Linked DNA regions of Homo sapiens. The protein of the gene in region 3 interacts with the protein of the main gene of each other region in a pairwise test. Each region holds a gene or a part of one and is shown on either strand. Other genes may lie near its edges.

Region 1 (3,857 bases), on a different chromosome or scaffold from region 3:
AGTTGGCTTCTCAGAAGATGAAAACAGACAAAGCCTCTAAAAACAAGGGAGGATGATAAAAGTGTAGGTTAGTTCAGGATCTATAGCAGATAGGAAACCCAATAGAGTATTGGTCACTAAGTGGCCAAGCAAGATTCTAGAAAATAGAAGGCAAGGCATTGATGAAGGAAATTTGCTCTCAAGATTTTCTCACCAACTACCCCCCAACTCCACCCCTAACTTGCTTTCTTAGGAAAGGAGGGTTGTACCAGAAAACAAGTCAGCCTTGGCTCTAATCAGATGCCAGAGAAGGGAGAAAACAAATGAGAATGGACATGTCTTATGCACAGAAACCAAACCAACTTGAGATCCTGATGGGTCTCCCCCAAATCCTGGGTCTGCCCCCTACCCAGGGATCGGCTGTGTGGGGGGACCCCCACCTGATGCAGGCCGAGATGAGAACAAGATAGCAACCGGCTAAGCCCCACTCAGAACAATCTACCTTGCTGTGCTCTCCTGAAAGTTAAAAAGGCAGAAAACTAGTTTTATCTGTAAGAAAATGTTTATTCTTTTGAACCCCACAGGAAAAAAAAAAAAGAATGCAGCCAAGACCAGTATTTAACGAAGTGTCCCAAAAGGCAGCAAAATGGGGGAAACCTCAAAACAAAGTCAGTGACAATTTTCCATGTTTTTGCACAAAGAAGAGAAAATCTATGACAATTCTGAGTAACACTTTCATGGTGACAATTACACAAGATGATTCAAAAATGCAAAATGGCAGCAACATGCACACCTGGCTAAAGCTAGAAGTATTTTTTTTAATCTCAAAATAAGATCTGTGATTTAAAGGATGATTCTTTTTAATACTTCTATTTTACTGACTTGCTTGTCCTACTTAATTTGCTTTAAATGAGACGTACATGCCAATTAACAGGAAATTTTAGAAGAACTATGTCCTTCCAGAATCCATGGCAAGGAAGCAAAACCAATTTATTTGGTTTCTTAATTTTTCCTAGTTTCCAAATACAATTTTGCATTGCCCCCACCCGGTCCCTCCCGCCACCCCCACCCTGATTCTTAAACACTTCCAAAAGTTGCCTGTGCAAACACTTTTCTACCCATGTATAATACACATTTGAAACTGAAATCTTTGTGCAGAGTTTTGAGTTTAAGAGTCTTAAAAAAAAAAAACCCTCCTTGGCACAAGAGCTGAGGAATAGTCAAGCTTCTTTTAAATCATCAAACACAAAATGATGAAAAGTGGAGAAAGCACAGTTAAATGAAATGAAAAAACAAAACAAAAAAAAAAAAACCTAGACCCGCAGCTTTTATTAGCCATCGTTACAGTCTCTCGTCCACAAACACTGCCCAGCTCCCTTCCCAGGGCACTTTACTGGAGGCAAGTGCAAAACACTGTGGTGCTTTCTATTCAAAGAAACAGAAGATGTAGCTGTGGTGGTAACGGACAGCCCAGCTACCCACCAGTTTTACAGCAGGATCCGCAGTGAGCTTGATACAGATAGAGGATAGATGACGGTAAAGGGGGAAAAGAGTTTAAAATTATCAAGTTTCCTCTTGAAATGTCTTTTCCCAAGGCACTGTGAAGAAGACTGCTGCTAGCAATTTTCTAGGACTAAACACACCGATGGGAATATAAATATTTCAAACACAACCCCTGTTACATTCTTACAGCTAGTTTCATCACTTAGGTCTCTTCTTAGCTTAAATGATGCTCCTTGAATCTGTTTGGTCCTTGGAGGGGCAATCCATTTTTGTTTTCTGTAATATTGACAATCACCTTCTTTAATGCAGCTATAACATCAAAGCTCTGTTAGGTTACTTAACCCTTCACTCTTAAACTAAAAGTTTTCATTATCATCTCACGTGAATCCAATGTGCAGGTTTTGCTTGCTTATTTAAGAATAAAACAAAACAAACATAAAGGGTTGAAAAACAAAAACTCTGCTTTTTTTTTCTTCAAGAGGAAACTATGTAAGAATACATAAAAGGCAAAGTTGGCTACTTGAAATCCAAGAATGGTTTTAATGTGTTGGCCGAGAAAAATAAACTGTAAAGTTCTGTGAGGTCTTCTAAAAATTTACAAGAAAAACTGATGGGCAGTTCTAATCAGACTTGGATGTTATCTTTTCCCCCCTTTTTAAAAATGACAACAGATACAGTTCCACAAAATACAATAGAAACTGTTTTTTTATCTTGACTGCCAGAGACGCTCCTTTGCAATGCCTTCCGGTAACCAAATTTTTGGGCACAACACACAGCTGGCCTTCATTTCTTCAGGGGCTGGTAAACAGAGGCATTGGGGTCAAGTCCAGAGGGGCTGGTCTCCACAAATTTGGAAGAGTAGTGGGGGGAAACAGGGCTCAGGGGGCTGGTGGCGGCACTGTATGTTATGCTGGGCATGACGGCCATGACTTCGGCTATCTTCTGTTTTAGGTCCTTGATTTCCTGATCTTTCTGAAGGATTTGTCCTGTAAGATCAAAGACCCACCATTAGTGAAAAGGGAGGCCTCACCCAACACAATGTCCCCAGGGGCCAATCCCTAAGTAGATTCGGTTCAGTGTGAACAGCTCCAGGTTCAGTGATTTATAAGAGCAGGCAAACTTGTCCTGTAATGGGACACAGTAAATATTTTAGGTGTCGTGGGCCATATACAGTGTACTTACTATCTTTGTCATCTTTTCTTCCCAGCCATGGAAAAATGTAAAAACCATTCTTCATCGGCAGGCAGTACAGGCATAGGTGGCAGGCCAGATTTGGCCCATGGGCCACAGTTTACTGATTCTTGGCTTAGAGCTAAGAAGGGATTCTGTTCATATAGGTGTGGTTGATGTAAAGAAGTCAGTTTCCAGGAACCACGTTTTGAACATGGCAGTCAGCTATGACAGCGTAAGAGGGCTGGCGATTTTGAACTCTGGCTCCACCTCTTGAGCTGGAATTTTTTTGAGAGGACAGACTATCTCTGAGTGTCAGACCAAGGAATACAGCATAACCAAGGCCTCAGACTCAGTCACAGTAATACGCTTCTGCCACCAGGTTCTCTGACAAAACAGAGGAAGCTCTGTGGCTGCTGTACTGGGAGGAACGCTAGTGTGACCCACATCACTTGCCCTTGCTTTAGCAACATCACCCTATTTAGCCTTCCAGCACACTTGCCCTCACTACGCTTCAGTTTCTTGATCCAGTCAGCTCCTGCCTACCTCGGGCCACTTCCTGTCCTGTGTATCTCCTGCTTTCTTTGTGAAGCTAGCTAAATCTTGAGGATTCTGTTTCTACTTCCTCAGCAAAACTTTCCCTGAGCCTCCTGTCTAAATTAGCTTCCTACAACTCCTAAATTCTTTTTTTTTTTTTTTGAGATGGAGTTTTGCTCTTGTTGCCCAGGCTGAAGTGCAGTGGCGAGATCTCGGCTCACTGCAACCTCTGCCTCCCGGGTTCAAGCGATTCTCCCGCCTCAGCCTCCTGAGTAGCTGGGATTACAAGCATGTGCCACCACGCCTGGCTAATTTTGTATTTTTAGTAGAGACGGGGTTTCTCCATGTTGGTCAGGCTGGTCTCGAACTCCCAACCTCAGGTGATCTGCCCAACTCGGCCTCCCAAAGTGCTGGGATTACAGGTGTGAGCCACCGCGCCCGGTCTAACTCCTAGATTCTTAACACACCCTCCACTTCCCTTTCTGTCACTTATAATGACAAAAACTAACACATAGGGCTTCATATATGCCAGGCATGCTAAATGCTTATGTATACTAACTCATTTCTTTCTTACGACAACCCCATGATGGGGGAATTATTATTATCCATTTTATAGATGAGGAAACTGAGGCATAGAGAAGTTGAGTGACTTGCTCAAGGTATACAGC
Region 2 (7,044 bases), on a different chromosome or scaffold from region 3:
AAAGCCCTTGTGTTAGGGATGGATGACTTGCTCCAAAACAGTGACACTGAACACTAGTTGGGAGGGTTCTTTACAATAATGGAGTAGGCAGCAGTCATTTAAAATAAAGTCATTTAAATGGCTTAAGTGAAAAGGAAGCTTACAGTAACAGCAAGCTAATATTTCTTAGGTGCAAATATACGAAGAAGACTTCAAAAAGGAACGATCGGATCGAGAGAGACTTAATCAAGAGAAAGAGGAGCTACAGCAAATTAATGAAACTTCCCAATCCCAGTTGAACAGGCTGAATTCCCAGGTACAAGTCAAAACAAAATAATCTTTGCCAGCATGTATGTATATTTTTTTCATTTAAAAAAATTCAAGACGTTTGGACTTCTGTTAATTGACATTGAATTTTTTTTTAAAGGTCAGCACCTGGGATGAAGTCATTCTTAAACAATCTTGTAAAGAGATGAAAATGACTGGAAATTTCTTTTAACTTAAGTATATTAAGGAATTGCCCAAGAAATTGCATTCCAAAGTTTTTTTTAATAAAATACAGTCCTTTTGATCTTTTTCTCATAATATTTATCTTGGTAGAATGAGAGTTGAACTACCTAGTACTCAAATAAAGTGAAGTGGTTTTTAAAATTCTTGTCATTTTCTTTGAAGGGCTATGTTGGAATGCTCCTGTCTGCCAAAAACATACGTATTTCTAAATGCCATTTATATGTGAGACTGAGGATTTTGTTCAGTGGTTCCCAGATGTAATGTAACTGGAGTACTTTGAAGGAAGCCAGATAATGGTCACCAGTTTATTAAAATAGAATATATTAAATGTAAGCATACTAAAATTAAGTGTAATTGAACATATTAAAGTAGACTCAGGAAGTTGCCACGATGGGTAAATAGTGATGTTAATGAAGGAAAATGTAGCTAACATAATTTTGCCTTAAAAAATAAAACAAACTGCACCATTTTTATTTGTAAAATATTGCAATACATTTAAATAAATAGAACATTGTTATGAGAATGCTGTGGCAGCACTTAGCTTCAAGATTCTTCGTCATAAAAAAATTTAAAACAGTCATCATTTTCTTCCAAATACAAAGTGGATTGTGAATTAAATTTAATTTTATCTCTGATTTTTTTAAGATTAACTTGAAATTCTTAATTTTACATGGAAAAAATTGTTTTGCAGAACCATTTTCTCTGTAAGAAATTAGAAAAAATAAAATAGTAGTAAAAAATCAAATAATTTTATGAAAGTAATTCAGGCAACCTAATAAATAATTCATACAATAATAGGTAAGACAATGTTCTGATTACTCTTGGTAAAAAAAAAGAGTATATATTGTATATTCTCTCTCTCTCTTTTTTTTTTTATGAGATGGTGTTTTGCTCTTGTTGCCCAGGCTGGAGTGCAATGGCATGATCTCGGCTCACCGCAACCTCCACCTCCCAGGTTCAAGCTAGTCTCCTGCCTCAGCCTCCCAAGTAGCTAATTTTTTTGTATTTTTATTCTTTTAATGTGTTTCTTACATGCCCAACTACTCTAATTTCTTTTAAGTTGTCTCTGCACAAACTGTTTTACTTGCTGCCAGTAAAACAGTTTTAGAACAAAAAATATTTGTTTTTTAAAGCAATTTTAAAATTTGCTGCCAGTAAAACAGCAAGTAAAACAACTTTAATTTTAAAACAATTTTTAATAATTTATTTTTATATGATAAATTATATATCAATATATAATTATATTTAATTAAATAATTTTATTTATTCTACTATATTAAGATTGGTGATAGACTGGCAATGTCCTTGCCATTACAGAACTTTTAGTCTTGTCAGGAATGTATATCTATCTACTTAACGTTGTATACTATAATCCACAAGTCCTTAACTGTGTCACCTGTAAAGTTGATTGGTATCAACAAAATAAATGTATTTTCTAAATGCAGTATGGTATAATTCTGCCTTGAACCTAAAGGACAATCTTAATGATATCTAAAGTGATAGATTAAAGCTATGAAATTTTTTCTTTAAAATAATGAAAGCTCAATCATTTTTTTAAAGTCTCATTTACTCAATAGGAGAATGATAGAATTCACAGAGATGTAATAGATGGTTTGATGATCTGTGTTAAATGTGTTAACAGCAGATTAAATGCTATGATATTTTAAAAAGAACTGACATTACCTTAGTTGAATAACATATTATTTGTTGTCCAAGTGGACTTTTAGAGGAATATTTAGGTCAAATCATTCTGGCATTCTGAGTTGCTTTCTTACCAGAATGTATTCATTCTATCACTGAGGATGCGTTAAGTCAGTGAAAATAAGTAATGTGGTAAAGTGAAAGATGCTTAGGGTACTTAGAAATATGAGAATTTAGGGGGAAAAGACTTGGTGTTCCTGCCTGCTCTAATATTCCATTGGTGGTAACCTTGAACAAGTTATTTAACTTTTCTATGCTTCCTTTTCTTCATCTGTACAATGACAAAGTTGAACTAGATGATCTCTAAAATGCTTCTTATTACTCTAAAATCTCTCTCTAAAAAATAAGTTCCTTAACCTCTTTTAGTATACCTGCCTGTAAAATATAGATAATGAAACCTACCTTGTGACTTCCTAAGTTGTTCTCAATATTAAGTGAAAAAAGCAAAAACAGGCCGGGTGCGGTGACTCATGCCTGTAATCCCAGCACTTTGGGAGGCCAAGGCGGGCAGATCACCTGAGATCAGGAGTTTGAGACCAGCCTGGCCAAAATGGCGAAACCCTGTCTCTACTAAAAGCACAAAAATTAGCTGGGCATGGTGGCACGCGCCTGTAATCACAGCTATTTTGGAGGCTGAGGCAGGAGAATCACTTGAACCCAGGAGGCAGAGGTTGCAGTGAGCCGAGATTGGGCCACTGCATTCCAGTCTGGGCAACAGAGTGGGATTCTGTCTCAAAAAGAAAAGAAAAAAACAAAAAAACGCTTTAGAAAACATTTAGCTCAAGTCAAGTCATGGCTCAGAGGTATTTTATAAATTATTTTAGTCTATTAGAAGAGGGGGCATGTTTAATAGTTTCATTTAGTTTATAATTAGCATGGTACTTTCAGTTCTTTGTAATCTAATTTTGATGCTTTCTTTTTGCAAGGCATTCTGCTATATGCTGTGAGAAAACGAAAACTGGTTCTTGCTAGTAAATAACTCACAATATAGTAAAAGAGACATGTACAGTCTATCCTCATCATCACAAATTCTGCATATGTGAATTTCCCTACTGACTAAAATGCATTTGTCATCCCCAAATCAATACTTGTGGTGCTTTGTGATACATCCTTACATATGAGCAGAGCAGCAAAGTTGTTTCCTGACATATACACATTCCTAGTGTTCTTTTTGTGATCTATTTAGTGCCATGTTTCCTGCATTTTTGTGCTATTTGTTGGTGATTTCATGGTTTAGAATGGCCCACACGTATATGCTGTCATGCTCTCTAGTATTCCTAAGCATGAAGGATGTGATGTGCCTTATAGAGAAAAAGTGTGTTAGAGAAGCTTCATTAAGACATGTTATAGTACTCTTGACCATGACTTCAGAGTTAATCAACAATACATATTAAATAAGTTGTCTTTAATCAGAAACACACATGAAACAAAGTTATGTATTGATCCATTGACACAAATGTTGTGACAAGAGGCTAGCAGAAACTTAACCCAACATTTCTCCTAGGAGCAGTGGTTCAATATTCACTAATTCAGTGTCCGTGGTGACTTTATGGAATATGACCACCACAAGCAGCAAGAATTGCCTGTAAATAGTACACATTGGTCTAAAAAATCACACAGTAAATATACAACACTACATAAGAGGACAGAATAATTCTGATAAGTGGGACTTGGAAAGGTATCATTCAGAAGGGGATATTTGACCATCCCTTATGGGAATGTGGGACATGGAGTGTAGGAATGACAATGATGTGAATGAACAGTCAAGGAAAAGCCAGCTTTCTCTAAATGTGTCTTAAGTTAAGGGAACCCAGGGTAGGTGATTCATCTAGATGAGGCTGGGCCTTAAGTAGTGAGAAGCTGTGGGATATAGCAGTGTGACTTTGAACAAGTTACTCAGAATCTTATGTCTTAGTGTTCTCATCTATAAAATTGAGATAGTATTAAGTATCACATAGAGGGATTGGGAGAATTCAGTGAGTTATTGCATGTAAAAAATTTAGATAAGTTTCTGACATGGATTAAGTGCATATATAACTTCTAACGTTTATTGTGGAAGCCTTTGAATGTCAGGTTGACAATTCCAATGTCATTCAGTAAGCAATGGAAATTGTTTCTATATCTGTATCTAAATAGATCTACCTAAAACAGAATTGTAATGGCCTCAAAAAACTGGAATAGCAATTTAAAACTATCACATTTTTCAAACTGCAACTGGAAATTTTAAGAATCAATGCATGTCTGCAAAAACCAACTTGTGGCTATTTTTGTTGGTATTACTGCTGTCAATGCCTGACACTTGAGTAGGTCAAGAGTGGCTTGGGAATTAATGATTTTAACTTGTCTTGATTAACAAATGCCTTTGTTTTGTCTTTAGATAAAAGCTTGTCAGATGGAGAAAGAAAAACTAGAAAAGCAATTAAAACAGGTATGTTGATCTAATTTTCACGCATACATTTATTCCCATGTACAGCATTTCTCATTGTCCCAATTAAAGACATGTTCAAGCTCTGCTACAGGTGACCTACAACAACCCATGCTTTTCATTACTGACTACACCATCAACGGATAGACAGTGCTTAGGCACCACCAAGGCCTTTCAACCCTAACACTCATAGAAAGCATATGCTTTATAGAGCATGTTACCAGTAGCACAAGTCTTAGTGCTCCTTAGACCCACAAGCACCTGGAAATAGATTTCATTGGTATTTCATGCAGTTGCTGACACAATTAACAGTAGAAAACTAAATCAAATACTGCCTCTTTTGAAAAAATAACATGCCTTCTTGAGCACTGAAGCATTCTATCCCATGGGTTCTCTAATAGCCTTAAATAATGAATATTATTTGTCCTAATTCCTAATTTCCTTTCTGGATTTTAGTTTTCCCTGGCTACAATTTAAGAAAACCTATTTTATGACTCAATGAATAGATTTTCTTCATTGAGGGCCCTCAATAAAGATAACTCAAAAACATAAAGTTAACTCTATATACTTTTCAAGTGTGTCTAATTTCTTCAAAATGGGGAAATGATTATAGTTTCACCTTAGGTAAAACTTGACCTGTGAGCCTCGTTTGTATTGGTCCTGAGTCTATTGACATGTTTACTATTTTGAGTTATAATTATGCCAGATTAAGTGGAACCTTAAGATTGAAACCAAACCTTTTGTATAAAGCAATGTCACTGCAACTCCTCAGTCTCTCCCACTGGTAGTGACCCCACAGTTTTGTTCTCCTCAGATGTATTGCCCACCCTGTAACTGCGGCTTGGTTTTCCACCTGCAAGATCCATGGGTACCAACAGGCCCTGGAGCTGTGCAGAAGCAACGGGAGCACCCAGTAAGTAAGAGTGCATTTGAAAAAGTGCTTAGTATACTGTTTTGGTAGAAATTATGTGCATCTCTGGAATTTCAGCACATTATATTATCTACAGCAAGAGCCTCTGTTTTCTCTCAGCCTCTAACTTGCAAAGTTGGAGTGGTCAATGTACACTAGAATTATCTTTGGGACACTGAATCCATAGGACACATAGATACGAATAAATTAACTGAAAGGTATTAAATTGGGAATAATTCCTTGAACAACATATAACATTTTCAATTGGCATACTTCATTCTACCCAAAGGACATTTTCTGTATAAAGTGTATTTATGTATAAAGGAAAGTGGATATGGCAAAACAAGAAAAATGAGATGCTTTTGTTCGGTTGTAAATTTATATTGAACTACTATGGATATTGCTACATATGTGCAAAATAGATTTTGACATTTTCCAATTGAAAGGATTTTCTTAAAGGATCCAAGAAAAAGTGACCCACTTAAGTTGTTCTCCATGGCTGTGTCTTCCCAGACAAAATGAAATGCAGAGTTGAGCAATTATTTGTGAGGGGAATTGATTTGGACAGTCAACCTGAATTAGTGAGGCCCAAAGCACCCTTTTTTTCCTTCTCAATAGCAGTATTCCACCTACCCTCCTCTACTTTTTATTTTGCCTACATAGATAGAAATTTATCCAGGAAAAAAATATGCATTTTCTGCATTTTGGATTTACCCAGACAAATCCCGCTACCCTTTAGGTTTGATTAATTGTGTTTCTCATGATGAAAAAATCTAAGATTTTTAACTGGGATTTTCCTACCAGAATGCTTACAGAGAACATGATTCTCTTGGCTTCCTGAAAGTTCTCATACTTTTGTTCGAGTGTGACTCAAAACCCTTTTCCCAAGGGAGGAGATAATGACTCTTTGGGTGGCTGAAGGAATGTGAGGATTTAATGAGCATCTCTTATTTGACCCTGGTATGACACAGCACACCGCTAAGAATTGAGTCTTTTCATGTTATTGCGGGTTGCTAGTTCTGTCTGCTCTCCCTCCCCCTTTTCCTTTTTTTTCTTTACCTGTTTGCTTACTTTTCAGTCTTTACCAATAACATTAAATTTTTTTTTCAAGAATGTAGAAGTCAACTCAGATTGTGAGAAACATAAAGAGAAATTTACTGTAGGAGTGAATTAACCTATAGGAGTTGGCTTCTACAGGTTGGGGGATTGGAGAAATATTCTTATGAAAGGTTAACTATAAAACCAATCAGTCATTCACATTTACCTAGGAGTACAAATTATTGTTTCAGTCAAATATTTCTTTATGGAAAGAAGGAAGGAATTCACCTACTATAGCTCATCAAACAGTCCATGTCAATTAAAAAAGGCAAGGCAGTCCAGGTCACATAAAATTGTCACCAAATAAAGGCCTATATTTGAAAAAGGACTCCAAGCCATGTAGAATGGCCTACATTTTCTTTCTTTTTTTCTTTTTTCTTTTTTTTTGAGAAGGCATCTCGCTCTGTCATCCAGGCTGTAG
Region 3 (5,533 bases):
TAATAGTAAAACTCTTTTGAAAAGATTTTTCCTTACAAATTATAGAACTTGAGAGCCACACTGCATCAGCAAGAAGCTTCCAAACACAAAACTTCTATTAACTGTGACTCTGCCCAGTGTGCAGCCCAGTTTGTCACGCAATTCCCCATGATCAATGGAAATATGCTTTTCTGGGTACTTGGCAAGATAATACTGATCAAGAAAGTGCTGGCCATTTAAGCCGTGCAATTGGGAGGATGGGATGCCCTTTGATTAGATGAGGAAGCCACAGAGCTGAATTTTGTTTGGTCAGATAACAAGTTTAAATTTCAATATACAGAGGTGTCTAGCGGGCTGTCCAGAAAAAAAAAGATCAGGGCTTGAGATGAGGGTCTGGGTAAGTAGTGTGGAGGCTAGTTGAGGCTGTGATGGTGAGGAACATCTAACTCAGGAATACTGAGTTGTCTTTTGTTTCCCTTCTGATAAGAAGTTGTAAGCTCATCCAGAAATACTCATTTTGCTTTCAATAGATGCTATTGATTGATGTCTCATTTAATTCATAAATTTTAATTTTATTTTCAGTAAACAACAATGTTCAACTTTTATGCACCAAAGTAATACAGAGTCACGCAGCAATAAAATCGTGTTTATTTAGTGATATGACAAGTAGAGAAATCAAACATAATATTTTACAAAATGTACAATTTATATTTTTATAAATACTTTAAAAGAGAGAAGCGGAACACGTGTGGTGGCATTAAAAGAATGTCTAGATTTAATTTTGCAGCCTACCTTGTAGCCTGACAAACCAGATACATGTATGTATACACATATATCTTGATCATGAGTTTTCATAATTATGGCCCAAGGATAAGTTTTGGGCATGTCTACAATAATTCCAAACTCTCATAAAATGTGTGGTCTCTCACCACCAGTCATGTTGATTTTGCTCTATTTTTCTCAAAATTCCACAAAATGCACATTTGAAACAGCTATCAGAGGATGTAAGCAAGTGCTTTGGGCCTCAGTTTACTCATCAGTTAGATGAGAGAATCCCTGCTAATATGCTGTTTCTGCTTAATTAAAAAACTTGGGGGCCTCAGCAGCTTCCAATATATAAATGTCTGAGGGCTATGAGGGACCAGTCATCTTTGTATTGGGAGTTTTCTGTTTAGTTTCTTTCTATTGGAAAGGAGTCAATGTGTCTTAAATGGAGAAAGTTTATGACACCAGTCCACTTAGTAAACATTTCATTACTGTAGATACAACACGTTTCCTAGTGTAAAACTAAACAGAAAAGTAATAGTCATCTCTGGATGTCATGTTGAAGAGCTGCATGTTTCCTTGGATTTGGAGCTTGGAAGTTCAGAGCTGGTTTACCCAAAAAGGGAGCCAATAGAGAATCTTCCCAATGAACCTCAATATATGGTTGTAATACTTGTACAATGAAATGTTAAGTATGATTCTAGACTTCACTGACTCATTACAGTGATATTTTCTTGGAATTGCACTAGTGCACAACAAAATATGATGAGTGCAATGTGAAACAGTCTACAAAGTAAATTATATACTTGTTTTCTTAAATTTATAGAAATTTGCATTTGTAATAAAACCACAGGAAAGTAAGTCATTCCTAAGCCATATCCTGAGCTTACCTTGATTCCAAGTTTACAGTTAATTACATTTTTTGTTAAATAAAAGACAGATATAAAGGTCCTCATATGATCACATTAGGAAAATACATAGGATTCAAGGATGAAATCGTGATTCTTCATTACTTTTCTTATATTCCTTTGATGGTGGGTGGCGCAGCAGCTACAGGTGCTCTGTAGGTGTGCTTCTTGAGTGACAGGTTACATTTTCCCTCTGGTAGTCTTCAGCTCCAGCTCCTGGAGGAAGGCCTCATTGTTCTTAGGACAGTTGGTGTGACAGGTGCAGGTCCCAATGACCATCACTGGCTTCTTGACTATTTGCCCTGGGGAGCACTGAAACTCTGCCTGGATGGTTTTGGTATTGTGGGGAGTGCAGCAGCGGCCATCACTGCAGACCCCACAGAACCTGGGCTTGTAGGTGTGCAGGCTGGTGCAGTTCTTGAACTGCAGGTGGATGGCTTTGAGTGACTTCTTGGTGCGGAGACACTTTTTTCCTTTCTAAGAAAGAAAAAAGAAGTGATGTATTGAATGGCTACCATTCCCCTGAGGGACAATTTTAGAGTATGGAATTACCTGCTAGTTGCCCACCCAATATCTATTGGTCTTTCTTCTTTGCTATCAGAACATTAATTTTGCTTGAGCAATGTAGTCAGCTAAAAGTATTTGCTTCCACAGACTATGTGGGACTTGGGATAACCTTGTGGCAAAGTTCTGGCCAAGAGAATCTGGGAAATTCTTTGCCCTTTGAGTAGGTACAATTCTTTATTGTTCCTGTATTCATTTTCCTTTCTTCCTGGAATGTAAACACCTTGCCTAATTGTACATAATGGTCTTTTGACATTGAGGAGATGAGCATGCAGGTGAAAGCATAACAAAACCTATCTTTTAAGACACTGTAACATGCTTTGGTGTCATTTTTAGCCAAATGGATTTTTACACGTGATACAGTTTGGTTCTCTGTGTTCATACCCAAATCTCTTCTCATATTGTAATCACCACGTGTCAGAGGAGGGGCCTGGTGGGAGGTAATTAGATCATGGGGGCAGATTTTTCCCTTGCTGTTCTCGTGATAGTGAGTTCTCACAAGATCTGATGGTTTAAAAGTGTGGCACTTCCCCTCTCACTGTCTCTCTCTCTCTCTTTCTGCCTTTCTCTCTCTCTTTCTCTCTCTCTCTCTGTCTCTCTCTGTCCTGCTGCCATGTAAGATGTGTTTTGTTTCCCCTTCACCTACTGCCATGATTGTAAGTTTCCTGAAGTTTCCCCAGCCATGTGTAACTGTAAGGCAATTACACATCTTTTCTTTATAAATTACTCAGTCTTGGGTAGTTCTTCATAGCAGTTTGAAAATGGACTAATACAACATGTTATAAAAAGAATGTTTATAAATCTGGCATTATTTTATGTTTCAAATACTCTTCAAACATTAACTCAACCTTATTAACAGTGTTCATTCATACAAGAAATAATCATTCATAGAAAGAACAATTGCCCAAGTTTTACAGATGAAGAAACTGAGTCTCAAAGACCTAAAGGGATCAGAAAACATCTAATATTTGAATTTGTCTGTACAAAGCCCATTCTTTCTATTACGTGATGAACCCAGGAAATTCCAAGACATGGAATTTGCATGGAGGCAAATAAAGTGGAGAATGTTTTCAAGATTGTATTAGTAATGATAAATGAAGAGGCCCAATGTTGATAATTCAGCAAAGAATTGGCTATATTTTATTTCTTACTTATATTTCTTAATCTACTAATTTCCTACAGTTATCCACTGTTCACCTTCATAGGCATGACCCACAGCTTGTGGGGTGATTAGACTTGGAATTATCTTAAATCAGTGGCTCTCAAACTTCAGTGCACATCAAAATCATCTAGAGGATTTCTTAAAACAAGCTGTCAGACCTCACACCCTGAGTTTTGGATTCAGTACATCCGATGTGGGACCCACACCACAAATTTACATTTTAACAACTTCTTAGATGATGCTGCTGGTTTGGGGACCACCCTTTAAGAACCACTGTCGGCCGGGCGCGGTGGCTCAGGCCGGTAATCCCAGCACTTTGGGAGGCCGAGGCGGGCAGATCACAAGGTCAGGAGATCAAGATCATCCTGGCTAACATGGTGAAACCCCGTCTCTACTAAAAAATACAAAAAAATGGTGGAGGGCGTCTGTAATCCCAGCTACTGAGGAGGCTGAGGCAGGAGAATAGCGTGAACCCGGGAGGCGGAGCTTGCGGTGAGCCAAGATTGTGCCACTGCACTCCAGCTTGGGTGACAGAGCAAGACTCCGTCTCAAAAAAAAAAAAAAAAAAAAAAAAAGAACCACTGTCTTAGATTTAAGAATCTCTTGGAGACAAGGAAGTAATGATTGTTATACTAGTACAATTTTTATAAAATATGTATACTATAAATAACCATCTTTAAAATAACATATCCAAATATTAAAGAAGATTCAAGTTACAAGAAAAAATACAAATTTTGCAAAATGACACAATAGAAAAAGCCACATCTTAGAGGCATTAAATGGAAACATCTTGTTTAATAAAGAAGTTGCTGTGCTATTGAAAATATTTAAGGACTTCTTCTTACTTTTTCAATTTAATATTTAGCGTGTATTCTTGTCAACACCCACAAAATGGTACAGGATAACAACATTCCTATGTGTGTGTATGTGTTTGTATGTGAGACTGCTTATGTGGGTGAACCTATATGACTATGTTAGATATATGTTTGAATTCCTCTGAGCGTGGGGAAGTGCATCTCCTAGGATATAATTTTAGGGATAAGGTGTTTCTAGGTGTTCTTTCTAAACTGGTGGAAGAAAAGTAAAGTTAGGATGGACTTCCAAAAATTATATAGCTAAGCAGCCATATAACTAATGCAACCACTAGGGACTCTTATTTTACCAGTAAATAGAAATCATAAGTAATGGTGGCTACTGTTAACAGAGTACTTAATCTATACCCAGCATTTTGCAAATTCATTCTATGTAATCATCGTGACAAGTTAAGGTAGGTACTTTCAGCCGCCCCATTATGTGGGAGAAGGAATTGAGGCTGAGAGGTTAAGAAAATTGCCCAAGATTACATAGCTGGTTCATGTGGAAAGACAGAATTTGAAGCCAAGCTGTCTGGCTCCACAGTTGTCCTCTTACGCATTAGATGATATTGCTTCAGTGTCAAGATATGTAAATCTTGAATTGCTAAGGGCTGTTTTATTTTAGTCTTAGGTTTGTATAAGGATCCATATAATGGTTCAAATTGGGTATTGCATTTTTCTGATATAGGGCTCTGGTAACAAGGCCTGTGATGTCATCAGCAACCAATCAGAGCTTCTGAACTGCACGTCTCACATTCAGTGTTAACATACTGAGTTGATGTAATTCCAACAAAAAAAAAATAAAAAGATATGTGCTGTTTTATTTGGCCCATATTGCTTTATGCTGGCAAATGTATTATTTCCACTAGGTTTTTAAAAATACCAACAATAATTCCCAGACAGTCACTCGCTTATTTATCAACAGTTGTTTATCACGCACACAATATCTGCCAGGTAGAAAGCTGAGGACTGAGAGGTAAGACCCACATGGCCTCTACCCATACATACAGAACCTGACGAATAAAGAGAACTGAGGTCAGAAGTGACCTCTTTAGAATCAGCTGTGCTTGACAACTGTAGCCAGTTTTCTCCAGGAATGGAATGGGATTTGCTAGACCATTCTCTATTGGGAAAAGCATTATAGTTTTCCGGTCCCTCTCCCTCTTTACCTGAGGGTGTACTGTGAGTTGCTTAGAGTATTTCAATATGTTAAAGAGAAAAAAGAAGATAGGCTGGCTTCAAGAACCCCACTGCCTTTTCTCTGGGGTTAACTCCCCGCTATAGCTGCTCTCTCCGTCACA

What was found. Proteins that work in one complex are often made in the same cells at the same time.
Region 1: the proteins of CCN3 (region 3) and MACO1 interact in binary tests that used the Homo sapiens proteins (3 or more experiments, as listed by UniProt).
Region 2: the proteins of CCN3 (region 3) and TNIP3 interact in binary tests that used the Homo sapiens proteins (3 or more experiments, as listed by UniProt).

The regions. Positions count from the first base shown.
Region 1 is NC_000001.11:25,496,875-25,500,731, reverse strand, and holds the end of MACO1 (macoilin), read right to left. Parts: intron 2,469-3,857; coding exon 2,266-2,468; 3' UTR 523-2,265; downstream 1-522. UniProt on the Homo sapiens protein: Plays a role in the regulation of neuronal activity.
Region 2 is NC_000004.12:121,140,300-121,147,343, reverse strand, and holds part of TNIP3 (TNFAIP3-interacting protein 3), read left to right. Parts: intron 1-169; coding exon 170-295; intron 296-4,567; coding exon 4,568-4,618; intron 4,619-5,429; coding exon 5,430-5,528; intron 5,529-7,044. UniProt on the Homo sapiens protein: Binds to zinc finger protein TNFAIP3 and inhibits NF-kappa-B activation induced by tumor necrosis factor, Toll-like receptor 4 (TLR4), interleukin-1 and 12-O-tetradecanoylphorbol-13-acetate.
Region 3 is NC_000008.11:119,419,432-119,424,964, reverse strand, and holds the end of CCN3 (CCN family member 3 precursor), read right to left. Parts: intron 2,130-5,533; coding exon 1,833-2,129; 3' UTR 531-1,832; downstream 1-530. UniProt on the Homo sapiens protein: Immediate-early protein playing a role in various cellular processes including proliferation, adhesion, migration, differentiation and survival. Acts by binding to integrins or membrane receptors such as NOTCH1.